Homo sapiens: one gene and its partners. The protein of the gene in region 3 purifies or fractionates together with the protein of the main gene of each other region. This does not show direct contact. Each region holds a gene or a part of one and is shown on either strand. Other genes may lie near its edges. The genes, in order: SMPDL3B, XPNPEP1 and CSRP3.

What was found.
Region 1: the proteins of CSRP3 (region 3) and SMPDL3B purify together in Homo sapiens (affinity purification with mass spectrometry; one large-scale study listed by BioGRID and IntAct). This does not show direct contact.
Region 2: the proteins of CSRP3 (region 3) and XPNPEP1 purify together in Homo sapiens (affinity purification with mass spectrometry; one large-scale study listed by BioGRID and IntAct). This does not show direct contact.

The regions. Positions count from the first base shown.
Region 1 is NC_000001.11:27,948,412-27,952,065, reverse strand, and holds part of SMPDL3B (acid sphingomyelinase-like phosphodiesterase 3b isoform 1 precursor), read right to left. Parts: intron 3,073-3,654; exon of another isoform or gene 3,002-3,072; coding exon 2,904-3,001; intron 1-2,903. UniProt on the Homo sapiens protein: Lipid-modulating phosphodiesterase. Active on the surface of macrophages and dendritic cells and strongly influences macrophage lipid composition and membrane fluidity. Acts as a negative regulator of Toll-like receptor signaling.
Region 2 is NC_000010.11:109,878,366-109,882,019, forward strand, and holds part of XPNPEP1 (xaa-Pro aminopeptidase 1), read right to left. Parts: intron 2,567-3,654; coding exon 2,477-2,566; intron 1,874-2,476; coding exon 1,823-1,873; intron 1-1,822. UniProt on the Homo sapiens protein: Metalloaminopeptidase that catalyzes the removal of a penultimate prolyl residue from the N-termini of peptides, such as Arg-Pro-Pro. Contributes to the degradation of bradykinin.
Region 3 is NC_000011.10:19,188,483-19,192,132, forward strand, and holds part of CSRP3 (cysteine and glycine-rich protein 3), read right to left. Parts: intron 1-3,650. UniProt on the Homo sapiens protein: Positive regulator of myogenesis. Acts as a cofactor for myogenic bHLH transcription factors such as MYOD1, and probably MYOG and MYF6.

The DNA of each region.
Region 1 (3,654 bases), on a different chromosome or scaffold from region 3:
TCATTGCCATGTCTTCTACTCCTGGAATGGTGTCTCACCCATAGTGGATGCTCAATAACTATTTGTTGATTGACTAAATGAGTGAATGAATTACCTTATTTAATCCTCATAACAACCCTGTGGACAGGTACCATTATTTTCCTTTTTCACAGGGAGCAGACTGAGTCTTTATGAGATTACCCAGCTAAACCATACCAGAGCTAGAATTGGGCCCTGCATGACAGGGTCTTCCTTTGCCTCCCAGGCTGCAGTGCAGTGGCACGATCATAGCTCATTGTAACCTCAAATTCCTGGGGTCAAGTGATCCTCCTGTCTCAGCCTCCCAAGTAGCTAAGAGTATAGATACACAGCACCACACACAGCTAATTTTTTTTTATTTTTTGTAGAAGCAGGGTCTTGCTATGTTGCCCAGGCCAGTCTCAAACTCCTGACCTCAAGCGATCCTCCAGCCTTAGCTTCTCAAAGTGCTGGGTTTACAGGCATATGATCACTGCACCTGGCCCAGGGCCCTGGATTTGTTTGCCTTGCGTGCCTGTGTTGTCAACCACTTGGCTGTGCTGATGAGGTGAGGACCAGTGTTCACAGCTGACTCTGGTGGGTAAAGTTGAACACAGCAGGAAGAACACATGATGTGGAACCCTGAATCTCGAGTTTCAGTCCCTTCCTCTTCTTAGGCCACTTACTCGACCTCTCTGTACTTCAGTTTAGTTATCTATAAGATGGGAGTGTTCTGCTTGACTTGTGTTTTTAGAATTCTCAGCTAGATAATACCTTCATTTCATCTCTTCCAATTTGTTCTCATAGTACCATCTCTAAAAGTGAGGTGTGGCCATGAGAAAGCGCTGTGTCAGATTATAATTGGTAGCTGTTTTTTCTTAGTTATACATAATGATGCATCTTTCAGTCAATGGCATCTTGGATATTAGGAAATTCAATAAACATGCAAGTGTAGTAGAAACTACAAAATCTTATAATTTACATTTGTGTTAAATCATAGTCAATAGGCCAGGCATGGTGGCTCATGCCTGTAATCCCTACACTTTGGGAGGCTAAGAGAGAGAATTACTTGAGCCCAGGAGTTCAAGACCAGCCTAGGCAACACAGCAAGAACCCCATCTCTACAAAAATTGAAAACAGGCCAGGCGCAGTGGCTCACGCCTGTAATCCCAGCACTTTGGGAGGCCAAGGCGTGCGGATCACTTGAGGTCAGGACTTTGAGACCAGCCTGGCCAACATAGTGAAATGCCATCTCTACCAAAAATACTAAAATTAGCTGGCTATGGTGGTGGATGCCTAGAGTCCAGCTACTCAGGAGGCTGAGGCAAGAGAATCACTTGAACCCATGGGGGTGGAGGTTGCAGTGAGCCAAGATCGCACCACTGCACTTTAGCTTGGGCGACGGAGCAAGACTCAGCCTTAAAAAAATAAAAAAATAATAAAAATAATTAGTAGGGCGTGGTGGCGTGTGCCTGTAATCCCAACTACTTAGGAGAGTGAGATGGAAGGATTGCTTGAGCCTGGGAGATGAAGGCAGCAGTGACCCTTGATTGTGCCACTGTACTCCAGCCTGGGTGACAGCAAGACCTTCTCTCAAAAAACAAAACAGTCAGTGAAGCATTTTCTTACTCATTATTTGACTTGTGTTCCAGAAGCCCCATGTGAAGCAAAGGAGAGGTACTCCCAGTTGGATCTGAGTTTGAGTCCCTCCCTCGGAACCGACTAGCTCGGAGCCACAGGTTCCTTTTCTATACATTGGGAATAATGGTGCCTGCTGTTGGGGTCAGGGGAATGTCCTGGTTTGACCCCTGCTGGAAGACAAAGGAAACCAAGCAGCCTGACTTGGGTTGGCTGGGTTAGATAACCTGGAAGCATCCAGGCATCTCTTTGCCTAGATTGACTTTGTTGAGGAAAGGAAGCAGCGGGAACAGACAGTAAGGGCAGTGCTCACACCAGGATTTGGGCCTCTTAAGTAAATGTGACCTTCACTAGTTTATTTAACCCTAAGGCTCACCTCCCTCATCAGTAAAATTGAGGTCACAGCACCTCCCCCAAGGCTTATGGTGACAGTGAAGGAGCTAAGGCTTGAATATTCTTAGAGCCAGCCTGACCCTTTACACTTGATCTAGAGTAACTGCTGCTAGTGCCATTATTTATTTTTATTATTACTCCATATCTGTGTCCTGGGACCCATGATGAAGATCTTTAGAGGGGGCAGAGGTACTGGAACCCAAAAAAGGTGGGGGTGGGGGCTATGGGCTGCTTTCTCAGGCGCCCAGTTGGCAGCCTGGCAGCCAGATTTAGCCTCCAGGATGTTGTTTTCGGTGCAGACTGCTTTAAAACATTTGCAAGGGCCATCAGATGGGGCACGCAGACCCTATTCACCCTATAGTGTCCCGTAGGGCTGCTGCCTCACTCACCCCCAGTCCCTGCCTGCTCTGCCAGACTCTGAAGTCCTTGGAAGCAACAAGAAACAGCACCTTGGCTGGAAATTAGCATTTCCCAGAGGCCCTGGCAGCCAGGACAGTTTGAGGGTGATGGATGCCAACTCCAGAGCAGGACACAAGGGCTGTGTGTGAGACTCACCCAGGGACGACACCTGTGTGCAACTCTAGACACCTGGAGAAGGGCTCATGAGTCTGGAGATAGGCAGGAGCAGAAGTCAGTGAAAGGCTGGGCATTTCCTTTGATAGGATTCTGTGTGTATCCACCGGCCCATGGGCTTGCATGTTGCCTTCGGGCTTGTTAGGAAGGTGAGAAATGGTCACCATGAAGACCTGGCCAACAGCCATCGCTGTCCATGGATGAAGGTCAGCCAGGACACTCGCTGCTGCTGTTGTCCCACTGTGCCAGGCAGTGCCTAGAGTTCCGAGAACACTGTGGAGGGACTGATGGCACAGTCTTACCTGGAAAGACCTCTCTGATGAGCTTGGTCAGGCGTTCCACAATTTCCAGTACAGCTGCCTCTCCCAGTTTCTCATCGGGCACATGAGGCGTGTCATCACTACAAAACACCACCAAGCCAATTTGGGGCAGGCAACTCAGGAAGCAGCAGAAGAAAAGGAAGGGACAGCTCTGCAGTGAGAGGAAAACCTATGGACCTGGGCCTCAGATGTCCCCTTGAGGGGGAATGGCCAGGCTAGAGTGGAGTCAGATGGGACAGAGCTGAGAACTAGGCTTTGCCATTTTCCTGCTGTGGGTCCCTTGATTGGCTGTTTAACCTCTCTGAGCCTCTATTAACTCATCTGTAATGTTGGGATAATACAGTTCTTACTCACAGAGTGTTTGTTAGGTATCCATCAAGGAGGAAAATTATATACATAATATAGTACAGTAAGAGTAGCTGCTAGGTTGTAATGAATATTATTATTTAGAGAGGAAAGCTCTGGAGTTCCAGTCCCATCTGCAAACCCCGAGGGAGCTCAGGGTTGAGAAGCCATCTCTGAATTCTGTTCCTTTCCAGAAGAGTTCAAAGGAGTTTGAAGCTGGCTTCAAGTGTAGGGTTCAGATCTTTTCCAGGGCAGATACTGATTCTGCCCTGGGACCACTGTGCCCTTCATGCCATGAATCAAAATTCTTGGGTCCACCTTAGAAATGCTTGGCAAGGGGAGGAGAATGGTGGCAGGTGGAGTGTAGGGATGGGGAGACGTCCGGACA
Region 2 (3,654 bases), on a different chromosome or scaffold from region 3:
TAAGAAAATCATTCTAGAGAAATAAAAAAGATAAATGCGGAGAGATTATTGCAGGATTACTGATAACAGCAAAAAATTAAAAACAACCCAAACATTTAAAAATAGGAGGACTGGGTTAGTAAATCAGAAGAGCCACTAGATGCAGTTTTCATTTGGATCCTTTTTTAAGGCCTCAATGTACATGGAAAATGTTCACACTATGATTCTAAGAGAATAAAATAAAACACAAAATCATATCTAAGCCAGGTGTGATGGCTCACACCTATAATCCTAGCACTTTGGGAGGCCAAGATAGGTGGATCGCTTGAGCCCAGGAGTTTCAGATCAGCCTGGGCAACATGGCAAAACCTTATCTCTACAAAAAAATCAGAAAAAATCAGGTGGGCTGTAGTCCCAACTAATCGGGAGGCTGAGGTGGGAGGATCACCTGAGCTTGGGGAGGCTGAGGCTGCAGTGAGCTGTGATCACACCACTACTCTCCAGCCTGTGCAACAGATGAGACCCCATCTCAAAATAAGAAAAAAAAAAAGAAAAAAAATTTATCTGCACACTAAGAGACATGTAAAAATAATTTATATTTTTAAAAATAATTTACGGCCAGGCACGGTGGCTCACGCCTGTAATCCCAGCACTTTGGGAGGCCGAGGCGGGCGGATCACAAGGTCAGGAGATCGAGACCATCCTGGCTAACACAGTGAAACCCCGTCTCTACTAAAAATACAAAAAATTAGCCAAGCATGGTGGCGGGCGCCTGTAGTCCCAGCTAGTCGGGAGGCTGAGGCAGGAGAATGGCGTGAACCCAGGAGACGGAGCTTGCAGTGAGCCGAGATCGCTCCACTGCACTCCAGCCTGGGCGATGGAGCAAGGCTCTGTCTCAAAAATAAAAAAAAATAATAAAAATGTAATAATAATAATTTACATAAAGTCCAGGCATGGTGGCTCATGCCTGTAATCCCAGCACTTTGGGAGGCCGAGGTGGGTGGATCACAAGGTCAGGAGTTCAAGACCAGCCTGGCCAAGATGGTGAAACCCCATCTCTACTACAACTACGAAAATTAGCCAGGCGCAGTGGCAGGCGCCTATAATCCCAGCTACTTGGGAGGCTAAGGCAGGAGAATCTCTTGAACCTGGGCAGCAGAGGTTGCAGTGAGCCGAGATCACACCACTGCACTCCAGCCTGGGTGACAGAGTGAGACTCCGTCTCAAAAAATAAAATAAAATAAAATAATAATAATAATTTACATAGATGAACAATCACCAGAAGGAAACATGAGGGAAAAAGTTACACTAGTGGGAATAAAGACAATATTTTCTTTTCCCAATTAAAGAGTTGTTTATACAATACTTAAAGGGAACATGATATTGTTTAATAACACCACAGAGAAACCACCCTCTTGTCAACTAGAGCAAGAAATTAATGGCCAAGAGTCAATTTAATATAAAAAGGCTCAAGGCTTAAACTGAAGTTCAAAATGTACACAAAGATCTTTTTCTCCTAATACAATCAGCTTGCCTATAATAATATTATAAGACTCATTTTTCCTTATAATGAAATTCCACTTAGTTATGATTCCCTAACCCAAAAAGCATCCACTCTATTATGGAACTTTTCTTCATTCTTGTTACTATTTTCATAATTAAGGAATTTTGAAATCTACACACACCAAATTTCCAGAGAGAATTATTAAAATAGAGCCCAAAAATTTGATGAAGATCTCAGATCTCATGGTCAGCAGAGCATGGGAGATGCTAGAGTTAGAATCACATATAGGTAGGTCTGAATAATGTATATCCACATATTAAACAAAGACTAAGAACCAACCTCTTTCTCCAGCCAGTTAAAGAGTTCACAGAGAGCAACAGCATCTTTAATCTGTGCAAACAATGGAGACATTTTTTAAGTTATCACTGAAAATCACGTGACCAGATTCAGAGCCTAGCCCTAATGCAATACTGAGAAGGCTGTACCTGCAGGGCCACACATCATCAGCAACCAGAGCTTTACATGTGGACATTTCTGGGAAGCTGGTGTGTGCAGCAACTCCCATTATCAGGGAAAGGCTCCTCTGCTATTCAGTAGTTCAGGTACAATCAGGAAGGGCCCCACCTCAGAGCACAGGGAGCTCCTCCAAAAGGTTAACTTAAAGGTTAAGAACCCTACAGGGGCCAGGAAAAAACAGGCCACTATCAAAAGCCACCTCTGGGCCCAAAATCTTTCTTCATCAGCATCACGTCATCACCATCATCTACACTGTGAACATCAATATCTCCTTTTGTATTGTGTATTATACTTTGTAAAGATCTAATCCATCAAGTATTTTATTTCATTCCCTCAATAACTCCTCCTGGAAGGCCAGGAGGCTGAGGCTCAGAGAGATTCTAACCTTGTGCCAGGCTCAATGCCACAGAGGAGGTGAAGGAGCCGGGCCTTCTGACCACCTCACATCCCATCTTCTGCACCAGCTCCTCTACTCACGTGAGCCCGCCTCATGCCTTCTGACTCAGCTGAATTCTTCACAGCTTTGGCGATGCAGATGGGGGTGTAAGGCATACAGCAGCGGTGGTCCTAGAGGCAAAGGGCAGTAGGGTGGGAAATCAAACCGGCTCCACCCACCCAAGACCAAGGCAACAACCTTTTTGCTCAGCAAAACTTACTTTAGACAAATCATTTGAAGAGCTCCCACTGGCGACCCATATAGCTATCCCCTGGGGCCCCAACGACCTGTCCCTTTTGATTGATGACCCTGAGCTTAAGCTCAACCAAAAAGAGTAAGTACATCAAACAAGGTGTCTCTCTTCCATCCCTCACTCCCTTAGCTCTTTGAGACTGCTGGCTGCCTGCCGTCAGCAAGACATTGCTTTCCAAGCCACTGTGGTTGTGGTTAGAGTTCACTAACACTGAAAGCTTGACCGAAATCACCCTTCTCTTGCTGTACAAAGGGGGCTTTTTCTCCCTGTCTAGCCATGCACATGACCTGATGAGTGAGGTCTCCTGCTCCCTCCCTTCCCGCCCAGTGGTCCTATCTCAGCTACTGATAATAATCTGATCTTGAAGGGCTGGAGAAGACCCTTTCCAATTTGAGAACAAGTTAGAATCCAGCAGAGGGGCCTCAGCACACCTGGCACTTGCACAAAGCTTCTAAAATTGCTTTTGTGATCTTATCTCCTTTTCTCTTTCTCTCCAGAGAGAGAGGAGAGAGAGAGAGGAGGAGTCACACTGTGTGTGATGATGGCAGGGGTACAATGGCAAGCCAGATCTAGAGAGCCAGGCCTGGATTCTTCCCAGGATGCCCCACTGCTCAGTGGAGAAGAAAGGACATCACTGGGCTTGCCAAAGGCCACTTGGCAGCCAGAGGCCCAGGGGAGGACAGTAGAAAAGCCTACCTCTAAAGAGGCCTGGATTCCAGTCCCATCCCAGACCCTAATGAAAATGAGGCAACAAGTGTCAGCTGCTTAGCACTGCCCAGCAAGGGCTCAGTAAAGGGCAAGGCTATCACTATCACTTGAATTTGACAAATCCCCAAATCCCCAACTCCCCAATCCTCTCTGAGCCTCAAGTGTCCTTAGCTATAAAATGTGGTGCGGCAGAAGGAGGGGGTAGAGAAGCATTTCCCAAGCTTCAAGCATTCTTATACCACCTGCACAGCTTTTACC
Region 3 (3,650 bases):
CTCACAGATGACAAAATTGGGTTCAGTGGTTCCCAGCTGGAAAAGGGTGGAAGCTAGCATTAGAACGAGATATATAGTCTCAGACCTGCTAAGGACTGCATCCCTGAGTCTTCCCAAATGACATCAGGGAAGTGTGTGTGTGTGTGTGTGTGTGTGTGTGTGTGTGTGTTTGTGGGCGCGCGCGTTGGCAGGGGGTGGGTTAAGGCAGGAGAGAAACTTACTTTTTTCTTAATCATAAAAGAATCAGGATTGAGCACTTTCTGTACTTACCACAGCCTTTGAAGGACACTGTGATATTCAAGCAGACAATTGCCATTGAGGCTAATTTTGGTCAAATTCTGGAAGCAGAGGAGGTGGGGAAGGGGGTAGACCTGCCTTATTAACTCCTTAGGCTTCTATTGGCTCAAGCCCCCTGGTTACTGTATATTACCTAATGTAAAGTATCCTCCAGTATAAGGCAATCAAGCCCTCATTTTTCCAAAGAGAGGATTTATAGAAAGATTTATTTTGCAAATTTAAAAGGAAACTTTTAAAGATATAAATAAAAATGTCAAATATCTACTTATAATTTTAATTTAGTAATATAAATCAACAATATATTGATTTGGAAAGGTTACTTTTTTCTAATCCCACATAAATTTGGGGAATAATTATCTCCAATTCTGTCTTTGCATCTTCAACATCGGCATCTCCCTCACCACCAGAATCATTTCTGGGGGCAGCTGGCCCAGCTTTTCTGAGCAGCTCACTTTCACTTCTATCTGTACGTTTAAAGAGGCAGCCCTGTTTTATACCTGAGTAGGAGGTTGTCACCTAGAAATTGCATCTCAACAAGAAGGACCTATTAGCATAGCATTAGGGCAGATTTTTTAAAAGATATAGAATTTCCACCATGTAATGACTTGCTACATTGCTTTGCAACAATGATTCTTAAAGGTTGTTTATAGTGATGCTCAGTGCTTATAATAGGGAGATAATATCCCCAGGAATAATAATATGTGTGCATTAAATGTATTTGCCTTTTAAAAAAACATTTCCATCAAATGATCCCTATAAGCAATCCAGCATTGAATGAGGTTATTTCAGGCTAATATGCCTTCTTCAAATGATATTATCTTTTTTAAAAGATAAAGTAATTGAATATGGGAGTGGAGGAAGAAGATAAGGTTGTAGATGAGGTAGGATTAGCCAGGGGCTGATGAGTGTGGGGCAAGGGAGTTTATTCTGGGACTTTATTTGACTATTCTGTCAACATTGTATGTGTTAAAAAATATCTGTACCAAAAAAAAGTTTAAATCAGTAAATAAAATAATTGGAAGAATGTCTTACAGCAGGAGAGACTTTATAAGGCTTTAAACACAAGGCATATCTTTTTTATGAAGATGAATTTGGGGGGAGAATGCCTTATATTGAGACATAGAAGGTGTGTACACTTGTCTCTACCCTTCTTGTTACTGTCAGTTACCAACCTCCACAACAACTGCTTGCATATTTGCTGATGGTCTAGACTCTGAGTTCCTTGAGGGCAAGCCTGTTTTGTCTTAATATTCCGAGAATTTAGCACAAGGCCTGGGCCAGAATTAGTCCTCTGTAAACATTTATTGAGTACATGAATGAATGAATGAATGAATGTGTCAATGTAAATCAGTGAGTTGTTCACAATTATACAATAGTAAGTTGCAGAGCCACGGCTTACCTCAGCTCTTTTGACTCCTAGTCCAGTGCTCATTCCCATCACTCCAAGACTGCCTATACCCTAAGGTGCCCTGGCCAATTCTGTAGCCACTCCCTGGCTTCTGATGAGCTTTTGTGAACAGACAAAGGAGAACTGTGCTGTCCAGTGCTGTGGCCACAGCCACATGCTGTGCTGTAAGCACAAAATGCACATCAGATTTCAAACACTCAGTACAAACGCAAAAATCATGTAAAATATCCCACTGATCATTTGTATATTGAAGTATACATTGAAATTATAATGTTTTGGATATATTGAGTTAAATAAAATGTTTTAAGATTAATTTCATCTGTTTATTTGTACCATTTTTAAACTATGGTTACTAGAACATTTAAATTTACATATGTTGCTGCATTATATTTATTTCTTTTGGACAGCAAACTTACTTTCTAGATTTCATGATTAGTCTAGAGATTTAATTGTGAAGATTTATCTAGAAGTCAGGGGAACACTGGCCTGGGCACAATGTAAGGTAGACCCTGCGTCTCTGAACGCCTTTTCCAGCAGCTACAGAGTTGCCTGCGGACAGACAGGTGATTATCTTGTGGTAATAATATAGAAAAGTGTGCTCCTCTCTGGGGCTCTTCTACCCATCGTTCCTGAAATGTATGCTGCTCAAATCCTCATCCCATCAAAGGGTTCTCAGGAAATATCAAAGGGTTAAAAGGGATGTACCAAAAAATGCTCAAATCTCTTCTACTATAACTCCTTTGAACAGGGCATCTTCCTCCTACCTGGGAAAGACAAGACACCCTCTACTAAGGAAAGCTTCCCTACAATTTCCTGTTCCCACGCAGTTACCAAAGTTGATCAAAGGAGAATACAGGCCTAGAAGGCTGGATTTCCATATCAAGACCCCCCAGTTTTCTCCTTGTAACAACCTGTGCAGTAGGTATAATCATCTTTGTTTTATAAGTGGAGAAATTGAGGTTCACCATGGTGAAATGACCTGCCCAAAATCTCAGTGAGTACATGGCAGAGCCCAGACTCAAACCCGAATCCCTTTTACTCTAATTCTAGAATTCTTTCTAATATTCCTAATCCTGTTTTTTAAAGAATGCTAGCTCTCTTTGGACAAAAGCCCCAACAGATGGAGTCCAGCCCTTGGAGTTCTTTTCAATTGCATGGATGCCTTGCAGCTACCGGGCTGAAGCATGGGGGTGCTGGCATGGCTGTGGGGACTAGTCGGGGAGGGGGCTCGCCAAATATCCAGCAGAGCTAGCCCTTAAGCCAGACCTCCTGGACAGAAGCAGAGAAGATAAGTGGCCATTTTAAAACCAAGGCCAATTTTCTCCCAAACAGGACTAGCTGCCAGGAAACAGTATAGAATGCAGTCATGTCAAAGAGCACTGGACATGGAGTCTAAAGGTAGAGGTTCATGTATAAGACTCTATCGCAGATGCACATGACCCGGGCTTAGATGTGAGAAATGACTTATCGAAAGTCACGTGAGTCAGGCAGGACCAGACTCACAAGGTCTCAAGGTTCTCAAGGTTCTCAAGGTTCAAGCCACAAGGTCTCAAGGTTCTCCCTATTTTTGACATGTGTGAGTCAGTGTCTGGCGGGTAATGGTCAGGATTTCTTTCATGCAGTTACTGGTGCCCAGGCCCTGAAATGCTTCCCTCTCTGACTCTTACATACAGAGTTGGCATGTGTTGCCCCCCTGCCTGACATAGGTTCTCTCTCAGACAAGACCAGTCACAGCTGGCTTCAGTCACAGCTGACCAGAAGGGGCAACATAGACAGCCAAATCCATCCTGGCTTCAGATAAGTGCTGGCTTCCTTTCTCTGCCAAGTCACATGTTGTCAATGTCGCCATGGGGTCAAAGTTTTCCCTACAGAGAGCAGTGACAGGCTAGCTTGTTCTGACGTTGAGCTACAGGAAAATGAATGGCCTCTGAGCTGGGCAAGCAGT